Linked DNA regions of Homo sapiens: all the other regions are linked to region 1. Evidence: fine-mapped expression QTL. A gene starts in region 1. Each other region holds a variant in brackets. All regions are shown on one strand. Distances are from middle to middle.

Region 1 (5,104 bases):
ACTGTGGCTAGGCACTGTGGCTCACACCTGTAATCCTAGCACTTTGGGAGGCCAAGGCAAGCGGATCACTTGAGGCCAGGAGTTTGAGACCAGCCTGGACAACATGGTGAAACCCAATCTCTACTAAAAATACAAAAATTAGCCAGGCTTAGTGGTGCGCATCTATAATCCCAGTTACGCGGGAGGCTGAGGCACAAGAATCACTTGAACCTGGGAGGCAGAGGTTGCAGTGAGCCAAGATCACGCCACTGCACTCCAGCCTGGATGACAGAGTGAGGCTCTGTCTCAAAAAAAAGAATGTAAGAACGTAGTAAAATAGGCCAGGCATGGTGGCTCACGCCTGTAATCCCAGCACTTTGGGAGGCTGAGGCGGGCGGATCACCTGAGGTCAGGAGTTCGAGACCAGCCTGACCAACATGGTGAAACCCCATCTCTACTAAAAATACACAAATTAGCTGGGCAAGGTGGCGGGCGCCTGTAATCCCAGCTACTTGGAGGCAGAGGCAGGAGAATCACTTGAACCCGGGAGGCAGAGGGTGCAGTAAGCTGAGATGGCTCCATTGCACTCCAGCCTGGGAGACAAGAGTAAAACTCTTGTCTCAAAAAAAAAAAAAAAAAAAGAACCTAATATCCTAATGTAATAAAGTAGAGAACCGTTGCCACAGCACCCACCAAAGTGTGTCTCTCATTGACAAGCTCAGGTACTTGTTTGTCTGTTTCTCCTGCCTACCCCTCAGCCACTCTGGATCTTCCCTTTGATCATTCTTTTCTCTTTCTAGCTTTGATGTTTTGGTTTCCATTCTGTAATTCGCACACTATTTTGTGGACATGCTCTTTTCAAATTTCTCTCCAAAACAATAGTACAAAGGCAGTCATAAACCAATTGTTGGTTTTTACAAAAAATCCCATCATATCACCAAAAACCAGTTTTATCATAACAGGATGAATATCAGACCAATATTCATTATTAGAGATGTAGTCTAAACTGACTCGGGAGAAGACATCCATTGAGTCTTTCATTCAGTGTAATTAGTTGTTATCATACATGCAAAATCCTATAACTATAAAGCATTTCAGAAATAAAGTATTGTTAAACAGCTCCAAATTTATTAAAGTATAAAAAATGTATTGAGTATATACCATGTGGCACCGTGCAAAGTAACAGAGATGCCTAAACTAAAAGGTTATCCTTTGTCCTTATTAAAGTATGACTGAAAGCTCGCTGGAGAATATAGTTTCTACATAGAGTCAAAACAGTCCTTCGGGCTCACAAATTTAATGATTTATATGGTATAACTGGCTTTAGATACAAATTTACATGCCAGACAAGCAATGTAGAAAAATCAAGAACTAGGAAACAGGAAAACAGATCTACATTTCTGCTTTGCTGCAATTCATTCATTTTTTTCAACCATTCATCAAATATTTATTGAGAGCCCATGCTGTGAGAGAAACTGTATTAGGTGCTGGGGAACATGGTAGCAAATAAGAGAGACCATGTATGTGAGCATGAGCAGGTGGCTTAACCTCTCCACATCTCTAACCTCTTTTAGACTCAATGTCTGAGGTATCTTTCAGACCTGAAATGCTAAGGTTTGCAACAGCCTTGTGGAGGGAGAAGCTGCCAAGTCGCCTTGGGACTTGAGGACTTACCTTCCTTTCAAAGGATTAGCCCTTGTTTTGATTTCAAAATAATTTTGTTACACAGTTTAAAAATAATTTGGTCAGGCTCTCATCTACATTGGGGTAATCTTGACGGTCTGGATGTGGTAATTCATGCTCATTAGACTTCAAAGGTAGGAAGTCAAAGTTGGGAAATGGTGGATGACTTTCATCAATTCATAGCCAGGCAGCGGTTCCCATTGAGCAGCTCCTCTGTGGTTCCACCCAGCCTTCCAACCAATAACGCAGCGTCTCCTGCAGGAAACTCATCGCTTGGGTCACCTGTTGCTCTTTGCTCTAATGAGCCTTGAGAAAGGATTGCTGGTCATGGGACCAGAGGCTTTATGGGGAGGGAAGAACTGTTCTTGACTTTCAGTTTTTCGAGCGGGTTTCAAGGTAACAACTTTCTTATTATCTAGCTTCATAATTGCAGTAAGGAATAGCTTTTTTTGCTTGCAGCTGAGATGACTTTTTCAAGGGAGAAAAAGGGATTTCTATAACGAAGAGAGGGAGAGAGAGATGAAGAGGGAGGGAGTAAGGGAGAGAGGGAAGAAGGGAGAAAGAGAGAGAGATTTGAATATACATTGCTTCAAGGATGCAAAAAATTACAACCTGGAAAAGGCTTCGAGTAACTTTAGGAAAATGAGCTGCTGGACTCCTCAGTCAATCTGTCCTTTCTAGTCAATGAAAAAGACAGGGTTTGAGGTTCCTTCCGAAACGGGGCCGGCTAATTTAGCCCCTCCCACGAGCCCAAGGGTCTGTTATATCTCTGTTTCCTTGAGGACCTCTCTCACGGAGACGGACCACAGCAAGCAGAGGCTGGGGGGGGGAAAGACGAGGAAAGAGGAGGAAAACAAAAGCTGCTACTTATGGAAGATACAAAGGGTAAGACCAAAATTGATTTGATCTGAATCCTTAAGAAAAAAAAAATAGAAGGAAAAATAAAAGCCCAGACCAAAAAGCAAGTACTTGAAAGCTGGAGGCAAAAAGCCCTGAATGAACTTTCCCACCCTCTTCCTTCTGAGAGGAGGCAGAGAAAGAGCTTTGGGAAACTTTTTAGGAAGCAGAGTCCAGGGTTGCAGTCAAGGGTGGCTCTAGAGCAAGCTGGAGGGGCTCATGAATATTCATTATCAATTTGTATTCAGAGTTGGTTTTTTTAGAGGCAAATGACTTTTTCAGTCCCCTTGCAGTTTAAGAGGCAGCTGCCTCATCTGCAGTCCGGACTCATCTAGCCTCGGGTCTGTACCTCAGGGTGTTTGCTTGAAGATGCTGGGCTCTGCGTGTAGATTTGTTTTGTTCTCGAATTTCTTGCATGCTTTCCTGTTGTGAAATTAGCAAAGGCTTCTTTGCTGGGAACAAGACAGAGAAGTTAATGTGGCACAAGGCTGTCACAACAGGACCCCAGAGTATGTCTTTCAAAATGCTGAAAGTTTCTTGAGATATGTGGGGGAGTTTTATGTGGGGGACAGAGTGGGGGACGGGGACGGGTAGAGGGAGGAAATAGAATAATTCTATCTTAAAAGGGCAGGTCACATCTGACTACATTTAGATTTTGTCTAAAAACTACAAGAGCAGCCTGGTTTGCACAGATGGTGTGCAGTCTCTATCTTTTACCTCTTTTGGGCATTTTCTGCCAAGACGGAGAGCCAGCTGCTTGCCAGCGTGTGAGAGCCAGGAAGAATCTCTGCAGCAGTGAGGGAGTATAGGGTTGTAAACCTCCTTCTCCTCCTTCTTTATCATCTCTAACTTCTAACATTCCCACATGCTTATACCGTATAGAACATGGAAGAATAGCATGAGTAGCCAACATATTTCTTAATACTTACAATAATGATAGCTGTTAATGTTGACTAAGTCTTTATTCTGTGTTGGGAGCTATACCTAGCATATTACATGTGCTACTTACTTGTCACATGAACCTTACAAGTGCTATCATTGACATTCCCATTTTCCAGATGGCATAATTGAGGTACTGAGAGGATAACTTGCCTTGAGATCTCATAGTTAGTAAGGGCTGAGTGTGGATGGAGGTGGTCTGAGGCAGGGCTGGTGGGCTTTTCCACTCCCCAATACTGTTTCTCTGCTTTTTCTGGTGCCCTGACATTGTGGATTTCAGGTTTGCAAATCCTTGAAGCTACTGGGGAAGTGATACTGGTAAAATCTTAAGTCTGTGAAGGAATTTGTACTTTGCACTCAAGTTCACATACATTTTCCTCATTTGGTGCTCATGGCCATTCTCTATGAGAAGCAGGTATTGTTATTATGGTCTTTTGCAAAAAGGAGAAACTGAGGTCAGAAGGGGTTAGTTTGGTGACACCAGTCACAGCTAGTTGTCAAAAGTCTGGACTGGGGGGCTGGATGTGGTGGCTCGCACCTGTAATCCCAGCACTTTGGGAGGCCGAGGTGGGCGGATCACCTGAGGTCAGGAGTTCGAGACCGGCCTGGCCAACATGATGAAACCCTGTCTCTACTAAAAATACAAAAATTAGCTGGGTGTGGTGGTGTGCGCCTGTAGTCCCAGCCACTTGGAAGGCTGAGGTAGGAGAATCACCTGAACCCGGGAGGCAGAGGTTGCAGTGAGCTGAGGTTGCACCACTGCACTCCAGCCTGGGCGAGAGTGAGACACTGTCTCAAAAAAAAAAAAAAAAAAAAAAAAAAAAGATTTGGACTGGATCTGAAACCCTCTGCTTCTGGTTTTTCTTCCAACCTACAGAGCAGACCCAGTCATCTCTGAACGTCTGTCCCCACCCCAAGCTGCGCCTCATTGAGTTGCTTTCAGTTCCCCAAAGGAACTGCATCTTTCCTCAGACTGAAGCTAGGCACTTTCTTCTGTTTTAAGGGCCTATCTGGTACTCTGCTTCCCCTTTAGTCTGGAGCCGAGCTGCCTGGGTTTGAATTTCAGCTCCACCATTTACTGTGTGCCTTAGTTTCATCATCTGTAACATGAAGAGAATAACAGTAACATCTATCTTACAGGGTTGTGGTAAGGACTGAATGAGGGATTCATGCAAAGTTTTTAGAACAGGGCCTGATATATAGTATTGCTAAATAAATATTAACATTTGCTATCACTGCTTGAAGCCTCATATTGGGTGTTATTCCCCTTTAAGCCTTCTCTAATCCTTCAAGTCTAGATTAGCCCCCATCTTGGATGCTTCTATAGTACCTCATCAGTTATGCCTAAGGTGGCACTCATCATACTTGTCCATGCTCCTGCCCTCTGCATCACCTTCTCTCCCTTCCAATTATATTTTCTGTATTCACCTTTAGATCTGCAGTGTCTAGTGCAATTTTATTTTTAGTCTCTAAACTTGTGGCAACTTTCTCATCAGTGTGGGCAGAGTGGTGGGAGAGGGGCCTCAGTCATGATAGGGGTACAGGAGGTAGCCACAGAGGATGACCATATAGCAGTCATAGAGGGCCAGAAGCCACGCAGGAAGTG
Region 2 (5,104 bases), 160 kb before region 1:
TCCTTCCTTGCCTAAATCTTTGCTGTTCATCTTTTCCTTCAATTATGTGACACACTCCATACCCTTCAAAAAACACAGCTTTTTGCTCATTCGAGCTAACTTAAGTCAGTTTCTGTTGTCTGCATCCACACACAGATGAAAAACCCTTAACTGAAATTACTGTTCAATGGTGCTCTGGATGAAGAGCCCAGGCACCTAAATTCATCCCTTTCCCTCTGACTCCCCCATCCCTGTCATCACGTCTTTAAATCCCAGACTCATTATCCTCTGCTTACAGCCAGCACCAAGGCAATAAGGGGAGATAAAAATGAGAAAAAAATGATGATGATGATAATAATACTTATTTTTTGAGCACCTTTTATACCAGGAATTGTGTTAAGTGCTTTACATAAATCATTTTATTGAATCAAATCCTCATAAACAACTCTGGGTTTGTTAGGACGCTTTTGACTCCATGTAAGAGAAATCCCAAATAAAAATAGCTTAAACGTGAGGAAATGAGTTATTTTCTATGTAATAATAAGTCCCTACCAGGGGTAGCTTTAGGGTTGGTTAAATTAGAAGCTTGATGATGTCATTAGGCACCCCAGTTCTTGCCATCTTTTCACTCTGCCATCCTTAGTTGGCTTGGATCGTCAGCCTGGGTACCCTTGTGACCACAAAATGGCTGTTACACTTCCAGGCATCCCATCTGGACATGACAGTATTTAGCAGAGGGACGATCTCTTCCTTGTATCTTTTTTAAGTACAAGAAAAGCTTTCCAAGAAGCCTCTAGTTGATCACCCCTCTCATCTCAGTGGCCAGAACTGGGTCATACATGCATGCTTAATCCAACCATTGACCCAAAAGTGGTATTATTGCAATGGGCCTACACCAAGCATAATTCACCCCTGAGTTGAAAGAGGAAGAGATAAAACACTCTGAAAAAAAAAAAGAAAAATGAGATCTGGCCAGGCGCAGTGGCTCATGCCTGTAATCCCAGCACTTTGGGAGGCTGAGGTTGGCGGATCATGAGGTCAGGAGATCAAGACCATCCTGACCAACATGGTGAAACCCCTCTCTACCAAAAACACAAAAATTAGCTGGGCGTGGCAGCGCGTGCCTGTAATCCCAGCTTCTTGGGAGGTTGACGCAGGAGAATCGCTTGAACCAGGGAGGCGGATATTACAGTGAGCCAAGATCGCGCCACTGCACTCCAGCCTGGTGACAGAGCTAGACTCCGCTCAAAAAAAAAAAAAAAAAAAAAAACAAAACAAAAACACTATTTTTCAGCAAAGAAAAGGGGAGGAACCCATTCGGTAGTTAACCAACAGTGTCTGCTGCAAACCTTCGAGATACACATGAGCAATTCAGAGGGGTAGAGTGATTTGCCCAAGGTCAAACAACCAGTTAATTGCAGATATGGAGTCTGAATCCGGAACTGTCCATCTCTAAAATCTACTCTTTTAACCTGTATTCTGGGAGGCAGTTAGTCCACACTAAATTCTTTTGCCTTTGAGAAACGCAGGTTGCTAAGGCTGTCCTGATTATTTCATGAAAATAACTGGTGTAGGAGCTACAAATTGATCATATTCAGGAGACCAAGCCACACAGCAAACTTATCTAGCCTCACTGAATCTGTTCCCCACTGGCTCACTCAAGTCTCCTCAAATACAGTGGTGAGGAAACTTAAAAGAAGCTCAATTCGGCAAACAGCAGGCTTCAGTCTTAGATATCTGGCTTTCGGAGTGGGCATCATAAGTGAACAAATATCCTTTCTGTGTCCTTCCACATCTCCTCTTATTGGTATTGCCACCTTTGGGGAATTCTTTCTACCCAATTTCATTTATTTGGTTCTGATAGGGACTTCCAGTGACAGTACCAAGACATCAAGTCCCAGCTATTCAGGAGGCCAAGGCAGGATGATCACTTGAGCCCAGGAGTTTGAGACCAGCGTGGGCAACACAGTAAAATCTCATCTCAGGCCAGGCGCGGTGGCTCATGCCTGTAATCCCAGCACTTTGGCAGGCTGCGGCGGGTGGATCACGAGGTCAGGAGATCAAGACCTTCCTGGCCAACATGGTGAAACCCGTCTCTACAAAAAGTACAAAAATTAGCCGGGTGTGGTAGTGCATGCCTGTAATCCCAGCTACTCAGGAGGCTGAGGCAGGAGAATCGCTTGAACCAAGGAGTCGGAGGTTGCAGTGAGCCGAGATCACGCTACTGTACTCCAGCCTGGTGACAGAGCGAGACTCAGTCTAAAAACAAAAAACAAAAAAACCCTCAACTCTATCAGTCAATCAATTAGTCAGAGATGACATTAAAATCAAAATAGTTAAACAATGGGAAAGCACAGACACCAACCAATCACAAGGGACGCTGGGCTAGCCATTAACTCTTAGTTGTTGGGCCATGGGGAAGTCCAGGGTGTCCCAAGGAGGTCCAGGATGGCCAGGAGATGAGGACAGGGAACTTAGGAGTCTTGGGTCAGTAGGTATTTACCAACAGCTATGGAAATATTTCACTTAATGCGTTCTTAATTATAAATATTGCATGTTTCAGTTCTCGAAAGCCCATTTGGTTCTTTTTTTATAGATTCGAATGCTCTGTTGAAATTCTTTATTTTTCATCTATTGTACTATTTTCTCTATTTACCATGTTTATAATACTCATTATAAAGTCCTTGTCTGCTAACTCAAATATCAGAATCAGTTGTGGGTCTGCTTCTATTGCCTGCTCTTTCTCTACTTTTATTTTTTTTTTCTGAGGCAGGTTCTTGCTCTGTTGCCCAGGCTGGTGTGTGGTGGTACAATCATGGGTCACTGCAACCTTGACCTCCTGGGCTTAAACAATCCTCCCTCCTTAACCTCCCAAGTAGCTCGGACTACAGGTATTGTGACTAAGCCCAGGTAATTTTGTTTGTTTGTTTGTTTGTTTGTTTGTCTGAGACGGAGTCTGGCTCTGTCGCCCCAGGCTGAAGTGCAGTGGCACAATCTTGGTTCACTGCAAGCTCCGCCTCCTGGGTTCATGCCATTCTCCTGCCTCAGCCTCCTGAGTAGCTGGGACTACAGGCTCCCACCACCACGCC[C/T]GGCTAATTTTTTTTGTATTTTTAGTAGAGACAGGGGTTTCACTGTGTTAGCCAGGATGGTCTTGATCTCCTGACCTCATGATCCAACCGCCTTGGCCTCCCAAAGTGCTGGGATTACAGGCGTGAGCCACTCTGCCCGGCCACCCAGGTAATTTTTTAACTTCTTTTTTTTTTTTGAGACAGGATCTCGCTCTATCACCCAGGCTGGTGTGCAGTGGTGCGATCTCTACTCACTGCAACCTCTGCCTCCCAGATTCAAGTGATTTTCCCACCTCAGCCTCCCAAGTAGCTGGGACTACAGGCATGTGCCACCACACCTGGCTAATTTTTCTATTTTTAGTAGAGATGGGATTTTGCCATGTTGCCCAGGCTGGTCTCAAATTCTGAGCTCAAGTGATTCACCCACCTCAGCCTCCCAAAGTGCTGGGATTACAGGCATGAGCCACTGCATCCAGCCTGTTTTTTTCCTTTTTCTTTTTCTTTCTTTTTTTTTTTTTTTGAGACAGAGTCTCACTCTTGTCACCCAGGCTGGAGTGCAATGGTGCGATTTTGGATCACTGCAACTTCCATCTCCTGGGTTCAAGCGATTCTCCTGCCTCAGCCTCCTGAGTAGCTGGGATGACAGGTGTCCACCCCCACGCCTGGCTAATTTTTGTATTTTTAGTAGAGATGGGGTTTCGCCATGTTGGCCAGGCTGGTCTCAAACTCTTGACCTCAGGTGATCCACCCACCTCGGCCTCCCAAAGTGCTGGGATTACAGGCATGAGCCACCATGCCCGGCCCCTGCTTATTTTCCTTATCAGTCACATTTTCCTGCTCTTTGCATGCCTTATAATTATATAAAAGAAAACAGAGGCAAAAGATGATATTATTTTCCTCCAGTGATGAATCTCTTTTTCTTCTGTTAGCAGATGGGGTGAGGGACTGATCACCTTAACCTAGTCAAGAATTCAGCTGGGTTGAGGCTGGGTTGCAGTCTTGGTTAGTCCCAGTCCACCTCTGAGTCACCACTATTCCTTGGATGGAGCCCACTCAAGCTTTTCATTGGCATGTCTCTGTCTTCTCATCCCTGAAAGCCTATGGAAGATTCAGCTCTGTTCTTAGGAGCTCCAGCTTAGCTCTAGATTCTAACATTACACCAGATAACATTGATCATCAAAAACTCTACCAGTTTCTCTTTGCCCCAGTAGAGACCCTATGCCTGGGTCAAGCCCTATCCTTGGCCTGTGCACAGATTTGGCAAATACCCCCTGGGAAGAAAATGGTCAGAGACAATCAGCACATTTAGAAAGGGCTCTTTCCGGCCGGGCGCAGTGGCTCACGCCTGTAGTCCCAGCACTTTGGGAGGCCAAGGCGGGCAGATCACCTGAGGTCAGGAGTTTGAGACCAGCCTGACCAACATGGTGAAACCCTGTCTCTAATAAAAATACAAAATTAGCTGGGTGTGGTGGCACATGCCTGCAATACCAACTACTTGGGAGGCTGAGACAGAAGAATCACTTGAACCCAGGAGGCGGAGGTTGCGGTGAGCCTAGATCGTGCCATTACACTCCAGCCTGGGCAACAAGAGTGAAACTCCGTCTCAAAAAAAAAAAAAAAAAACGGAAAGGGCTCTTTCCTCTCCAGAATTTCAGTTCATTAGTCCTCATTGATGGCACAACTCTGAGGTGTCTTAAAAAGGTGATTTCTGTAACTTACTCTGTTTTTTCTAGTTGCTTCAGCAGGAGTGTTGGATTGTTCCTACATATACATCCTATCCAGAAGAGGAAGCCCTCTGAAACCCTTTCAACATTTAACCATAGTGAGGTCATCCAGATATATACGGCTGAATCAACCCAGAGCATACCATGGCCCCTGCTCCACACCTCTACTACAGTGAGGACAGGTGGCCCAAACAGACTAGAGTCTTTTTGCAGCGAAACTGGGGACCATGAGCCTTTTTATTTTTACAGTGGGTGGAAAGTCTGACAAAGCTGTGAGAATAAGTCTGGAAGCTTCCAATGGCTATGCCCCATGCTCATGGAAGAGGCCAGTCT
Region 3 (5,104 bases), 120 kb after region 1:
TTTACAAGGTTTGAAACCTGAAATGCAGTCTATTATCATACATAACTAAAAATAGAGCCTCAATAAACAGATTCCCAGTTTTGAAAATGCAACATTTGTACTCCACATTGTCAGTTTTCTTAGGTATATTTATAAATACTCCTATAAAAATGTAAAGAAACACATAATGTAGATTGCTAATTTTATAATAACACAAGTTGATTTTGACATCCAACTTATTAATTATGAAATGACTTTTGGCCTAGTAACAATGAAAATGGGGGCAAATACAGATAAATGGTAATTCTTAGAATGAACTACTCAGCACCAATTCTAAGTTTTTCTTGATGGTAAATCATAATGTTCCCTTTCTCCTCGGTTCTGCAATCTATAGGCATACCATAATTGTAATCAATAGCTTAAAAATATGTCTCTCTGTCCTATTCTGTATCTGTATCTCTTGGATTTTTACCTTTGCAATAGTCAACTGAACCATCTTCTTGGAGTACTCATGAAGATGGAAGTCTACATGGAGAATACAGGATGAATCCACTCTGTCTCCTGCAGTGAAGTCTGTTTGAAGGATGTATTTGGCTGTCTTCTGGACAGGCCATTCTAATAACAGAAACAAACAAGTTATTTTAAAACTTATTGGAATATTCAAATATTAACCAAAGTAGAAAAATATAATACACATCCATGTGCCCATCACAGAACTTCACTGATTATCATCATTTAGCCAGTCTTGAAGAAGCAAGTGCTAATTACAATCACAAATGAAACAAGATTCAGACTTCATGAAGAGCACTGCGCTATAATAAAAGAAGAAATGAGCACATACATTCTTTTACTGACAGTCAAATGGTGAAGGTGGGCAGAATCATTATGTGATGCAACATGGCAAAAGTATACAGACAGTGCATCCAGAGGAAGGCACCTTGCTGAATGACTAGAATGGAAGTAGGAGACATTTTGCAGGCCCCCTTCATCCTGCAGGGAGAACCAGAACCACAGCAGCTCTATTTGCCTATTCCTCTTTAAATTACAAAGTTAAAATTTGGGAGTAGTAGAAAATCAATTGGTTATCTTATAGAGTCTCCTAGAATATTTCATTGGCATTGAGAAGGTGGAAAATGCAAATTATATACTTTAAAATGTAATTTTTGCTTTTCACATATGCTTAAAGCCTAAAACCTCTTAATAAACTTCTTCTGAAATATACATTTGTGGGACAATTCTAGTATGTTTTAAATGTAACTGTTTCATAGTGTTTATAGAGAACTCTATTTTTTTCCAACTGCAATCCCTTCTTAACCCAAATTTATAACATGCTGTATTGTATGGATCTGTCAGTAGTGGGTCAGTTAAAAGGAAGAGGGTAGGAGGAATCCTGTCTGGCTGTCATCTGCCTTATTTTTTCTTAGGCCAAGGCTTTTTAGGATAACTAAATTTTTCCTTTAGGTTTCTCCACTTGATTGGAATACCTTTGAGTCATTTTAATCCTGTCTGTAGTAGATGAAGAAATTAGGGAAGTATGAAAAACTTGGTAATTTGAAACAAAAACTTGAATCTGATTTTAATAGAGTAGCTTAGTTCAACATGGAATATCCATTTATATTGAAACTCATTCTTTCATATAGTGTACTTGTAACCCCGACCCCATATCTGGTACTGAGTGACAAGAGGGAAGAAAAAGGAAGGCTTTTGAGAAAAGGCCTTTTTATATGCTCTCTTTGGAATACTATAAAATTCCTAACCCAACCCACCATCAGTAATAGAGAGGTTTTCCTAAGAGAAGCAAGGAATTTTTATTGACCAGCATTGTCTTTTATCTTGTACAATGGAAGACAGTGGGTTGGAGTTAGGGTGTAGAATTATAATTATGGAATAGAGCTATATTATCATAAGGGAAATGAAACAATTTCTGGTTTAACTGGTACCAACTGCTAGCTACTGGAAACCTAGGTACAGATAAACTGATCAGTTTTGCAACCCCAAGCCATGAAGGAGAAGTGACAGTCATTTCAAGAGGTCCTGGCCAACCTCTGTAGAGGTTGTATCTAAACCCTGAATATGTGTGAATTCATGAAACACTTATTTTCTAACATGTTTACATATCAATGGGAGTGATTAGGGATAGGGTTGAGAAAGATTATCCCATAGCTAAATCAATATTTACCTCTGACTTCTACCTCTGCAATTATTGGTACCAAGATTCCTGTCAAGTGAAGAAGGTGAGGAAGATAGATGAGATATTAGTAGAAAAGTTATGAGAGAAAAACTGAGTAGTCTCTAAAGAAATACCAAAATAACCCACACTAGGTTCAGGCAGGAGTTAACATCTAACCAGGTATATACAGAATAATGTCATAGATAACTGGAGAAAATATATTGTAAATCGGGGAAAGGCACATAATGACTTTCTCTATACACCTCTTTGTGTCCCTTCAACCTTTTCTCTCTTCTGTGGCCTTATTTTCTATTCCAGTTTTTCTATTCCAGCACTTCTCTTTTCCTGACTTTTCTTTTGATTTCTATACCTTTTTATATCCTTCCTTCTCTTGTTCTTTCCCTTTAGGGTGCCATGCTTTACTTTTCTCCTTGCCTTGCACTTCAATTTCTGAGGGCAGTGATCTGCTAATGCTCTCACCTCAGTGATACAGATTTAAAAACTACTGAATGATAGAAGAAAGGACTACTGGGTTGTGTATGTCAAAAATATTTTTTGTAGCACATCTATAAGGAATATTTTTAAGACCCTTGTCTAAAAATCATGGCCTTTACATTTATGTTTCTGATTTTTTTTTTTTTTTTTTTTTTTTGAGATGGAGTCTCTCACTCTGTTACCCAGGCCGGAGTGCAGTGGCGCAATCTTGGCTCACTGCAACTTCTGCCTCCCGGGTTCAAGTGACTCTCCTGCCTCAGCCTCCCAAGTAGCTGGGATTACGGGCGCCTGCCACCACGCCCAGCTAACTTTTGTATTTTTAGTAGAGACAGAGTTTTGCATTGTTGGCCAGGCTGGTCTCAAACTTCTGACCTCAGGTGATCCACCCGCCTTGGCCTT[C/T]CAAAGTGCTGGGATTACAGATGTGAGCCACTGCACCTGGCCTGTTTCTGATATTCTTTATGGTCAAGAATTAAACTATTTAAATGTAAGTTATATTTACTTCAATCCTAAGAAATAACTTAATGGGGTATTTTCAATTCATAGCAATCAGAAATAACCTCGGTTGTAAATTGAATCTATAGCGCAACAAATATTGAGTGATAATTTTATACCACTTTTGAATGTTTATACAAATGCCCTAATTTGAAAGAAGTTTGAGTGTTTCATTGAAATAAAATACCATTCCTTAGTGTAGAGAACAAAATGACTGACTTGTTTAAATACCAATCAGGATTTATGTTAACAGGAAGTGGGTGGTCCTGAAAAGATCTTGGTCTTTGTAAGAATGTTTCTTGGGGCTGGGCGTGGTGGCTCACGCCTGTAATCCCAGCACTTTGGGAGGCCGAGGTGGGCGGATCACGAGATCAGGAGATCCGAGACCATCCTGGCTAACATGGTGAAACCCAGTCTCTACTAAAAATACAAAAAATTAGCCGGGCGTGGTGGCGGGTGCCTGTAGTCCCAGCTACTCAGGAGGCTGAGGCAGGAGAATGGCGTGAACCCGGGAAGTGGAGTTTGCAGTGAGCCGAGATAGCGCCACTGCAGTCTGGCCTGGGCAAAAGAACGAGACTCTGTCTCAAAAAAAAAAAAAAAAAAAAAAAGAATGTTTCTTGGTCAAAGTCCAAGTCTTCTGATGGCATTTATTCTTGTGGCTCACTAGGTGGGTGGTAATAGTAAAATATTTGCCTTGGTCCAGTTCCATTGTTGAAAACAAAATTTCTTAACTCCATTTGTTTTTGAAATTTTTGAGAAAGTGGCAATCTTTGTCCACAACCTCTATTAACACATTTTTTCAAGGGCATTTTCTCTGAAAAATCACTGTTGGAATGATCATATAAAGGTCCCAGTGTATGATCTGATACTTCATCAGTACATTCTAAATCTTCCAAATTCATTTCATCATAAGAATAGTGTTGGTGGAAAGGTCTTTACCTTTACAAACCACTTCAACTGAAGTAATGAAAACCTTGTCCAGGTAACTGGTTCTGAAAATCCCCATGAGGTTGAGTACTCACAGCTATATGGAAGAGTTGTTTTTATCTCCAGCCTCTGTTAACAAAACCAAAATCTTTCATTGGAAGTGTTCCTGAAAGTTACTATAGGCCTGGTTATGAACAGTATGCATCTTTTGTCTACAAGCTTTGCTAACAAAATCAAAATCATCTCCAGGGTCTGGTTCATGGAGGTCACTGTGAGGCTGGTGATCATTAAATGGTCTTGGTTTTGTTCTAGGCACCCAGTTAATGATCTCCATCTCCTCTTGGGAGACATTGTAACACTGATGATTAGCAAAAAAAAAAAAAAAAATGAACATCTTGATCCTAGTCCCTTGCTAGCAAAATCCCAGTCTCTCAAGTGTCTCTTTTCTGCTATGCTATCACTACACTGGTATTCATCAAAATCCCTATGCCTTTGGACAGGTTCATTGTTGGCATAATCATAATTCTTTATCTGTACACCATTTTGAGGGTATTGATCATTAAGAAGCCTTGACTTTTTCCCAGACCCATGTGTGGCAGGGGAAATATGCTATAAATTACCAGTATTTTAACAATAAATAAAAGATAAATGCTATTGTATTAGCAATATCTCCCTTTACCCAATTCAGCAGGACACAAGATGACTTTGGTGTGATGTCTCCTAAATTGGGTTGTGCCTCATTTTCATTTCTCCTTTTTATCTACTTGTGAGCCCAAAACACCCTCCCACTGAAGCAGCCTCGTTGTCTGGGGTGACACCTGAGGTTTGCTGTCTGACGGCCACAGAGATCAAGGATGCAGACACACAAAGAGTGAGGTTAAGATCAGAAATTTAACAGGTGAAAGAATAGTTCTCTGCTACAGAGAGGGGTCTTCCAAGGACTCTTTTGCCCTCACTATCTGCCTAAATAATCTCTATCTCCTGTATCACTATCAGCTATCAGACTGTAACTATAAGCTTTAAAAATTCCAAACTTGTTTT
Region 4 (5,104 bases), 110 kb after region 1:
TTAAGAAATACTATTAATTAAAAATAGATGCTTATCCCTGACTGCACTGACAAGGGGGAAGAAAGGCTGAGCAAGAGCCTGGAAGCTTGCCATTCTCTCCAGGTATTTTGTCTAGAACATGAAAGAAATGTGGTCAGGGCCTTCATCAAGAGTTGCTCAAATATGTCTCAGCATTTTACAAAATGCTTAGCGGTGGTTTTTTGCATCTGGCGGTGATCTGTGGAGGAAGATAAGCATGTTAGAGTGGAGGCAATTTGAGACCAGGCCTACATGTGGCTGCTGAGGAAGCAGATTTAGGCTGCTCTTTGAAAAAAAATTACTTCTGGTTTAGATTAAAAGTTCTCATCCTGGCTAACATGGTGAAACCCCGTCTCTACTAAAAATACAAAAAAAATTAGCCGGGCATGGTGGTGGGCACCTGTAGTCCCAGCTACTTGGGAGGCTGAAGCAGGAGAATGGCATGAACCCAGGAGGCGGAGCTTGCAGTGAGCTGAGATTGTGCCACTGCACTCCAGCCTGGGTGACAGAGCAGGACTCCATCTCAAAAATTAAAAAAAAAAAAAAAGTTCTGTCAGGTTTCCTCTCTTATCCACATCTCATGTTTTACTTCATAAGACTATGTTAGGCTGGGAATGCTTATATTTAGACCTGTAGTTCTGCTCAGGTAAGTCATGTGGGGAGTTGTTCAGAGGCCCTGGAAGTAAGCTAAGAAGGGCCTGCATTTGGGAGAATTCCTGAAGCATTTGGGGAAGGGGTTGCAGGGTTAGACCCCTGTCTTCACCCAGAGCCTACAGCATTGAGGTGGATGTTATGACCCAGGGTTCACTTTCCCAAGCTGCATCGTCCACCCAGGTAGAAAGCATAGTTTTGTCAAGTACATTGTTAGAAGGTGACTCTTTCTTCTTTCCCTCCTAACTTCATCATGGACTGCTACTCCAGTATGGCTTGTGTTTGGGAATGTTCCTCCTAAACACCTTTGGTAGAGAGATAATTAACAATGTTTAAGCATGTACTATGTGTTGACAGTGGTGGACATTTGCTTGCTGTGCTTTATGCATATCCTATCATGCTGCCTTCCCCTGCTTTGGCAAGGGAAATAAAATGCAAACCACACCTGCTGACACTCAGTCAGGTACCTGAAGCCATTGGGTCTCTGAAGTGGAGGGACCAGGAGAGTGAGTGGAAGGGAGACTCCATGGTTGTCTTCTGGCAGCTTCATTAGAGGGCTAGTAGAATCTTTCAGCAGCCAGAACACAGCCAATTTTCTACTCTGAAAATCTGGTCATCCAAGATCTGGTCAGCCCAAGTGAACAATGTGATCAGATTCTATGTGTACTGATGACCAGTTATATTTCAGTGTACTCTGGATCCTCACATTCAGCCTCATGAATATTTAGCCTTTCTAGGGAAAGGCATCCCATTCTTGAAGATCCATCAATGCCCCTTTATGTGGAGGGCAGAAAGAGGATATCCATGAAGAGAAAAGAACCTCATCATGTTCCACTGCCCTGGGAATAGAAAGGAGAGAAGAGAGAGGGGAAGGTGGGAGAGAGAGGAGAGAGGAGAGTAGACTTCCCCTCCCAATTTGGAGAGCACATAGTGATCCACCCACAGGCATGAGCATGATCAATTCTGGATTGATGAAGAAGGTGGATGCCTTTTTGGCTTCTATATTTTTGGCTACTATCATAACCTTCAGGAGGCCAGACTGCATAGCCAATGTACAGATTTCCAGAAGGAGGAGGGGAATAGGAGTATTAAAGAATTCAGGGAAATTAGGCCAAAATGGCATCTCCCAGCCCCCCACAAGGGATAGGCCAGCCTTCAAGGACCTACAGGGGCTCAGCACTTTCAAGTTGGACCTAAGTAGATTCTTGGGATTTTGTGTCCCATAGGCATCCTTCAATTGACAGGCCCAAGACTACTTCAATAGGGGAGGAGGTCTTTTCACAAAGGGAAAGCAGAATGCAGTGACTGAAAGGAAGGGGTAGGAACCTGGACAGGCAATGCCAACTGATGTCCACACCAAGGTCTCAAGAGGATGTCACATGCAGAGGAATCAATCAAAGGATAATTTCCAGAACTGTGCTGAAAAGACAAGCTCCAAGCTGGGTCATTCTGAGAATTTCATCAGAGCAAGACAAGGCAGTCTAGTTATGGACTTATCCTTCCAGAAACTGGGGACAGGCAAGAACCAAGTGAGAAACAGACCCCAGCCAGCGGTTAGGATTTGCATATGGGTTAGGACCCACGGAAGGGAGAGAAATCTGGGAAAAGAGGGGTGTGGTTTAGGCATCAAGGAGATACTACATATAAAACATCTGGCATAGTTCCAGATGGTACATGATGCATGCATAACAAATGTTCTCTCTCTGCCGAGGGTATCCAGGAGGGAATGCCTATCTGAAGGGCTGAGGAATGGGGCAGCAGACAGAAGTCCAGGCTGAACTAGAGAGGTCCTGGCCTGTTGTCCTCAAATTGAGGGCAGGAGAGTTGCAGAGCAGGCTGTGGGTATCTGGGTGTATATTCACAACAGCTAGGCTAGGTAAGGGCAAGGGATGGCAAGCAGCTCTTAATATTTTTAGTAGGGAGTAGGATGAGTAAACATAGGAAGGACTCAAGGAAACAACCACTTTGCATGACTCAGATGCAAAAAAAGACATTAAGACAGAAGATAGAAGGTGAGATGTTGGCAGTGCTAGCAGTCCTCAGCAAAATGCTGCCTAAACTGTGTCCACAGCTGTGTTTCTCAAACTTTACTGTGCACGTGAATCACCTGGGAATCATATTGGGATGCAGATTCTGAATTGGTAGTTTTAAGGTGAGGACTAACCAGCTCCCAAGTGATGCTGATGCTGCCAGTCCAGGGACTAAAGTGAGTGGTAAGGCTTTTTATGGCTGTGGGCCAAAGGCTCTGGTCAAGAGCATATAGAAAACTCAGATTAAACAAAGTCTAGGGCATGAACAGAGGTACTGAAATTTAGTGTTTCAGAACCT[A/G]CTAGACCACAGGAACTACTTTTTTCCTGGAGGACCTGTTATTATCTCATAGAAGCCTGTGCAGGAAAAGCTTCCTTAAGAGACCCTAAACTATAAAACCCTGCTCCCACTGAAGGAGTGCAGCACCACCCCCAAAACCCTCTGGAAGAGGCCAACCTTCAGGTGCACTGGAGCTGGGGCTTTCCCCTCTCTTCATCAGGGCTAGTAGAGAAAAAGAGGGCCACAGAGAGGTGCCTATCATACGAGTATGATCTCCCCCTCACTTCACTTCTAGATAAAAACATCTTACGCTGGAGTAAAGGAGAAGTACCTGAGTGAATACTGCTTTTCTGGTACCTACATTCTCTCCCTCCTTCTGCAAGGCTATCATTTCACAGCTGATTCCTGGGAGCACATCCATTTCATTGGCAAGGTAATTTGGGGGCCTGTTGGGCTGGGGGGAGGTTGGGGTTCGGTGGTAGTGACTGAAGCAGTTTGGGGCTTGAAAAAGGGGGGAGTCAGCATGGTGTAGCTTTGGCTTGATGTCCTGTTCTGCCATTCTGCTTCAAACCCTGGCATTCTGTGTCAAGCCCTCCTGGGTCTGTTGGCCCACTGTGAGCATCCTCGCTAAGGACAGCTACTTGCATTTTCAGTTGCACCTTCCCACATAACAGTGACTAATTCCTTACAAAACAAAACACAAAACGAGATATATTAAAGTAACAGCATTTCAGCAGCTACAGTGACTCTGTGTGCTGACTTCAGCAGCCCTCTGAAAGGCCCCTTCCATAAGCTGGGAAAGTATGATCATGGTTTCATCATCCTTGTTGGTTATTACTTCAAGGTTGACCAATCTGAAAGCTCTGTGTGAAGAAGGGGACTGAGTGGCTGTGAATGATGAGACCGTTGTTTAGAAGCCAGGCTTAGCCTGAGTCCGGAAGAAGCAACCTCAATGCTGTGCTTTACCATAGCACCACCTGCAGGTATCCAGGAATAGAGAACCCAGCTGAGCGACTCATGCTTGACCAAAAATACCCAGAGCAGTGTGTCTCTACCTTTTTAAGCCCATGCTCACTAGTGGGGAAAACATTTTACCCCCTGTATTAAATATGGTGATTTCAAGCAAAACAAAGCATTGAGACAGAGGGCTGTAGCAGGCCTGAGGATAACAGTGTCCTTACACTCTTGTCAGTGCTGATCTTGCTAATTCAAACTTAAATCTTTTCCTTGTTATAATATTCCAGACTTCCTTTAATTCCAGCAGTTTATTTTGTTTGAAAGATTATACCTATGTCAAATTTAGGACTGACACACGAGGTAGTCATGATGTATGTGTGTGTATATACTTTTTTTTTAAGAGACATGGTCTCACGCTGTCACCCAGGCTGGAGTGCAGTGGTATGATCACAGCTCACTGAAGCCTCAAACTCCTGGGATTAAATGATCCTCCCCACCCAGGCTCCCAAATAGCTGAGACTACAGACATGTTCCACCGTGCCCAGCTAATTTTATTTTTTAGAGAGACAGGGTCTCACTATGTTGCCCAGGCTAGTCTCAAACTCCTGGCCTCAAGTGATCCTCCCTCCTTGGCCTCCCAAAGTGCTGAGATTACAGGCATGAGCCACTGTGCCCAGCCAGTGATTTATATTGTTTGAACTCTTCCAATGCATGATCCAATAATTCTAAGCCCTAGGTGATAACTCTTCTAACTCCTCCAACCACAAACAGACTTTCCCCACTGTTTGCAGATCCAGGGCAGCGACGCCGGCTGGACTTTGGGCTACATGCTGAACCTGACCAACATGATCCCAGCTGAGCAACCATTGTCCACACCTCTCTCCCACTCCACCTATGTCTTCCTCATGGTTCTATTCTCCCTGGTCCTTTTCACAGTGGCCATCATAGGCTTGCTTATCTTTCACAAGCCTTCATATTTCTGGAAAGATATGGTATAGCAAAAGCAGCTGAAATATGCTGGCTGGAGTGAGGAAAAAAATCGTCCAGGGAGCATTTTCCTCCATCGCAGTGTTCAAGGCCATCCTTCCCTGTCTGCCAGGGCCAGTCTTGACGAGTGTGAAGCTTCCTTGGCTTTTACTGAAGCCTTTCTTTTGGAGGTATTCAATATCCT
Region 5 (5,104 bases), 110 kb before region 1:
GAAACCTTTTAACTGGTCCAGCTGTTTAACAAACAGCTATGATAAACCATGATTTAAAACAATAATAACTTTTTTTTTTTTGAAACACAGTCTTGCTTTGTCACCCATGCTGGAGGACAGTGGCACAATCATGGCTCACTGTAGCCCTGACCTCCAGGACTCAAGCAACCCCCTGACCTCAGCCCCTTGAGTAGCCACCTTGGCTTCCCAAAGTGCTGGGATTACAGGTGTGAGCCACTGTGCCTGGCCCCGACAATAATATTTTATCACAGAAAGTTTCAGCTGGCTGAGGTGGGACGACTGCTTGAGGCCAGGAATTCGAAACCAGCCTGAGCAAAATAGTAAGACCCCATATCTATGAAAAATTAAAAAAAATAATAGCCAAGTAGCATGTGCCTGTAGTCCCAGCTACTCAGGAGGCTGAAGAAGGATCCCAACTGAGCCCTGGAGTTCAGGGCTGCAGTGAACTATGATTACACCACTGCATTCCAGTCTAGGTGACAGAGCAAGACCCTCTCTCTAAAATAAATAAAAAGAAAAAGAAAAAGAAAATTTAATACTTAACCAAAGTGCTGAGAATAGTATTATAAATCCCCATGTACATACCACCCAGTTTCACCAACTATCTCTCATGGCCAACTTCCCACTCTCCAATAACCCCTCTATACCCTCACCATTGTTTTAATACAAATTCCAGGCAACAGACATGTTATTTCATCTGTAAATAGCTCAGTAATAACTGCTAAAAGATAATCATATATATTATATATAATATATAATTATATGTCTTTCTCTCTCCACAAATCCATTATCTGGAATATTTCAATGATTTCCTTCATATCAAATAGCCAGTGTTCATATTTTTCCAATTTTTTTTTACCTTGCTCAAATTGAGATGCAAATTAAACCCTGCATTACAAATTAATTGAAGTGTCTCTCAAGTCTCTTTCATTCATGGGTTCCCTTCTCCATCAGTTTTCCCCCTTGTAATTTTTTGTTAAACTGAGTTGTTTATTCTTTAGGATTTCCCAGCCTACATTTTCCCAATTGTGTCCTTATGGTATTAATACTGCTCTTTGTATACCCTATAAACTGCTGTTTGGTATGAAGGCTTTTTTTTTTTTCCCCAACAAGTCTTTATAAGTTGTGGTGTACATGTTCATCAAGGGGATACATAATGCCTGGTTATCTTTCTTTTTGTGATGTTAGCATCTGTTGATGATCATTGCCAAGATCCATTATTCCATTAGGAGATGCAAAATGCTGACACTCTAACTCAATGATTCCTTCGTCATTTATAATCTGGAATAATTCCAAAAGGGAAACTCTCCTTTACCAACTATTTGGTTACCCTGAGGTACAGTTTGTCTATGAAAAGCAGGACAAATGTGTGTCTCTTCCCCTTTACTCATCCATTTTCAATATGAGTAGCTTCTCTAGTGGCCTCCAAAAATGGCCAATGAAGTTTTTTTTTTAAGTATAATTATGAACTCATGGATTTAAACATATTTTGTTGTATTGTGCAGTGATTCCCTTTTTTCTTTTTTTTTTTGAGACTGAGTCTCACTCTCGCCCAGGCTGAAGTGCAGTGGTGCGATCTTGTCTCACTGCAACCTCCACCTCCCAGGTTCAAGCAATTCTACTGCTTCAGCCTACCAAGTAGCTAGGATTACAGGCAGGTGCCACCATTCCTGGCTAATTTTTGTATCTTTAGTAGAGATGAGGTTTCACCATGTTGGCCAGGCTAGTCTTGAACTCCTGACCTCAGGTGATCTGCCCACCTTGGCCTCCCAAGGTGTTGGGATTACAGGTGTAAGCCACTGTGCCCAGCTGTGATTCCCTTTCTTGATGTTTACATCATCCCATTTATGGCCAGTGGAAGCCAGTTTAAGTTGGCTCCTGAGTCCATCTGACATGATAAGATGTCTATTAGTCAGGCCCTGATGGAGACAGCTCTTCCATTAGGTCCACACGCAGCCCTAGAAAGAAAGCTGGTAACCTACGCAAACCTTTACCAGGTTTTTCCTACCGTTTTCATCAAGTTTCTCCTCCGTTCAAAATCTTCAGCCTGCTTTTGAGACTGAACTCCAACTCACCTAGTTGGCTTCAGAGCTCTGCCTAATGGAATGATCCACTTTATTTTTCATTCTTCCTAATGAGACCACCACCTCTGCTTTCCAGCTTGTCTCCTCCCTGGCCCACAGCATGCCATACTCATTCCTGCCTGTCCTCTACCTGGAATACACTCCTAGAGCCTGTCCCTTCCCCAGAACCACTGGATTGCACAACTGCAGGGGCACCTCACACTGTGTACTTAGTAGCATGGAACTTTTCCCCTCTGTTTGTGCAAATCCCATCAGTTGTCAAGGCCCAGGCTGAGTTCCAGCTCTCCTAGGAAGCCCCAGGAACAACCATACTCTCATCTGAGTTTCCCACCTCTGGACCCATCGCTCACTGTCATTTGGGCCCACTTATTTGGATATTTACTGCCCTGAACAGTCACCTTAATGTGTGGGGAGTCCCAGTTCTGGCTCGCAAAGGGTAAAGACTGTTATGTTTCTAAGGTAGAGAGGGTAGAGAGGCTAGTGCCCCTCACAGTGTAGTCTCTTGATAAATATTTTTAAAATTTATCTGATGGACTCAATCTGGGAGGTGGGTTTGATCATTGCTGTTGTTCTGGGTGTTTTTTGTTTTTTTTTTTCTGCAGGGGCGGGTGGGGGGGTGGTCAGGGTTTTGCTCTGTTGCCCAGGTTGTAGTGCAGCGACTTTATCACAGTTCACTGCAACCTTGAGCTCCTGGGCTCCAGCAATCCCCTTGTCTCAGCCTACCAAGAAGTTAGAACTTTTTGAGACAGGGTCTTGCTCTGTCACCAAGGCTGGAGTGCAGTCGCATGATCATAGCTCATTGCAGCCTCAATCTC[C/T]CAGGCTCAAGCAATCCTCCTACCTCAGCCTCCCGAGTAGCCGGGGCCACAGGAACGTGCCACATGCCTGGCTAATTTTTAAAAAAATTTTTGTAGAGATGGGGGTCTCACTATGTGGCTTAGGCTGGTCTCGAACTCCTGGGCTCAAGCAATCCTTCTGCCTCAGCCTTCCAAAGCGCTGGGATTACAGGCGCAAGTCACCACACCCAACCGATTTTATTTTTGTAGAGACAGGGTCTCACTTTGTTGCTCAGGCTTGATAATTTAGAATAGAAAATATAAGAAAAAAATTGTATCAAGTTTCAGGTTAGCAATTTCCCAATATTAACACCTCAGGAACTTGTTTTTTAAAAACTGAAAATTTAATTACAAGGTAGTGTAAGATTTCAGCTGCCATGGAATAGCTCTTGCTTTATCTGTGGGATGCCTGGATGTCTGGATTTTTACTTTTGGCCAAATCTGGCATGCTGCTGGTTTTTGTAAATGAAATTTTATCAGCTCACGGCCACGCTCATTCATTTATATATTATCTATGGTTGCTTCTGCAGAGCTGTGTAGTTGAGACAAAGACCATATAACCTACGAAACTAAAATATTTACTATCTGGCCTCTTGCAGAAAAAGTTTGCAGGCCCAGCACTTTGGGAGGCCAAGGTGGGAGGATCACTTGAGCCCAGCAGTTGGAAACCAGCCTGAGCAACATAGCAAGACCCCTGTCTCTACGAAAAATACAAAAATTTGCTGGGCATAATGGTTTGTGCCTGTAGCTGCAGCTACTCGGGAGGCTGAGGTGGGAGTATCACTTGAGCTCGATAGGTCCAGGCTGCAGTGAGCCATGATCATGCCACAACAGTCCAGCCTGGGTGACAGAGTGAGATCCTCTCAAAACAAACAAACACAGCTGCTTCATCCCAGAGATACTTCTTAAATGGCTAGGTGTGAAGCCCAAGCATCTCCAGGCCCAAGATGATTCTACTGCGTAGTCAGAACTAAGAATCTCTGACAGAAACAGCTCTTTATCACTAAGAAGTCTGAGACATGAACTGCATGAAATCACCCCTACTCCTTAACATCCCATTTTCTTGCCCTAAGATGTCGTCTCTCACTGGCGTCTACAGTGGGAAACAGTTTTCACATTGGGTTAAATCTACTGCACTGAAATCACAATTATTTTTTTAAGTTGATGAGCAACTTAAACCTAATCTGAACTAGCGACTTAAAAACCCAATTTTAGTACAGCATAATTTCTATCTTGGCAATCACCTGCTCAACAATAGATGCCAAGCGCCCCAGGGCCAGGCCACATTCATCCCCTCGGGTCACCACGGCACTGCCGAGCTTCACCACGATTCTCTTGGCATGCTTCAGCTCACTGCGGTGGGCGAAGGACTTGCCATGTGTACGACTGAGGGGTACAGTGATAAACGGGATGTTGCTCCAAGAACGAACATGTCTGATGACTGAAGGCTGGATACAATCTGTAGCCATCAAAGTCAAATGCAAGAAAAAAAGAAATACTCAATATAGTTTTTCAATAAAAATATACATGCTCAGTATTAACCAGTTTAGATACCAAAAAATAGCATTATCATTATTAACTGTGTAAAACTAGCACAGTGTATCAAAAGCTCTATCTAGCGTATTCTTATTTTAGTATTGTATGGAGTTTACACCCAGTATGCAGGTCATAGGCACACTCAAATGCTGTTGGTGAAGAGTACAAACAAATTAATCTCTCTTGAAGACAGGTTGGCAAATTTATCGAAAGCCTTAAAAAAGTTCTCTAAAAAAGAGATTTATCAGAAAGCTATTCATCACTGTTATTTATTATCAGAAAAATCAGAAGCAGAGTAAATGTTGGATAAAGGGAAAAAGATTAACATTTTTAGAATTTTTAATAATGTAGAAAAATACATGTTAATTTCATATACATGTATAAACACATAGATGGATAAAATTAATGAAAAATTAATATTTTATCTCTTGATAGGATTATAAGCAATTTTAAATTTTCTTCTTTGTTCTTTCTTAGATTTTCCAAGTTTATGCAGTAAAGATGCATTTTTTTTTCATAATCAGAAAAATATGGGTGTTTCTAAAGAAACCATATTACTATAAAAAGAGGAAAAAGCCGGCCAGGCATGGCAGCTCATGCCTATAATCCCAGCACTCTGGGAGGCCGAGG

What was found. PIP is the estimated chance that this variant, and not a neighbour inherited with it, causes the effect.
Region 2: its variant is the best candidate, but not a certain one, in a credible set for the expression of ENTPD1 in whole blood (TOPMed, PIP 0.56).
Region 3: its variant is the best candidate, but not a certain one, in a credible set for the expression of ENTPD1 in whole blood (TOPMed, PIP 0.50).
Region 4: its variant is the best candidate, but not a certain one, in a credible set for the expression of ENTPD1 in whole blood (TOPMed, PIP 0.75).
Region 5: its variant is the best candidate, but not a certain one, in a credible set for the expression of ENTPD1 in whole blood (INTERVAL, PIP 0.82).

Annotation. Positions count from the first base shown.
Region 1 is chr10:95,753,709-95,758,812 of GRCh38, forward strand. ENTPD1 (ectonucleoside triphosphate diphosphohydrolase 1) reads left to right here and starts at 2,455. Exons shown (of 10, transcript NM_001776.6): 1 at 2,455-2,547. The coding sequence starts at 2,532. ENTPD1-AS1 (ENTPD1 antisense RNA 1) reads right to left here. Exons shown (of 6, transcript NR_038444.1): 6 at 1-3,006. RefSeq lists an enhancer at 2,016-2,315 and a silencer at 3,646-3,705.
Region 2 is chr10:95,588,936-95,594,039 of GRCh38, forward strand. No RefSeq gene overlaps it. Among named protein-coding and RNA genes, the nearest start is that of SORBS1, 30 kb to the left of the region's middle. The variant C/T (reference allele first, on the strand shown) is at 3,069.
Region 3 is chr10:95,876,067-95,881,170 of GRCh38, forward strand. It overlaps ENTPD1 (ectonucleoside triphosphate diphosphohydrolase 1), which reads left to right. Exons shown (of 10, transcript NM_001776.6): 10 at 1-1,200. It overlaps ENTPD1-AS1 (ENTPD1 antisense RNA 1), which reads right to left. Exons shown (of 6, transcript NR_038444.1): 3 at 452-594. Among named protein-coding and RNA genes, the nearest start is that of CC2D2B, 29 kb to the right of the region's middle. The variant C/T (reference allele first, on the strand shown) is at 3,044.
Region 4 is chr10:95,861,453-95,866,556 of GRCh38, forward strand. It overlaps ENTPD1 (ectonucleoside triphosphate diphosphohydrolase 1), which reads left to right. Exons shown (of 10, transcript NM_001776.6): 9 at 3,272-3,409; 10 at 4,725-5,104. The coding sequence ends at 4,931. The region is part of intron 3 of ENTPD1-AS1 (ENTPD1 antisense RNA 1); the gene reads right to left. Among named protein-coding and RNA genes, the nearest start is that of CC2D2B, 44 kb to the right of the region's middle. RefSeq lists an enhancer at 3,792-4,021 and a silencer at 3,840-4,134. The variant A/G (reference allele first, on the strand shown) is at 2,998.
Region 5 is chr10:95,638,810-95,643,913 of GRCh38, forward strand. ALDH18A1 (aldehyde dehydrogenase 18 family member A1) reads right to left here. Exons shown (of 18, transcript NM_002860.4): 3 at 4,183-4,397. Among named protein-coding and RNA genes, the nearest start is that of ALDH18A1, 15 kb to the right of the region's middle. The variant C/T (reference allele first, on the strand shown) is at 2,921.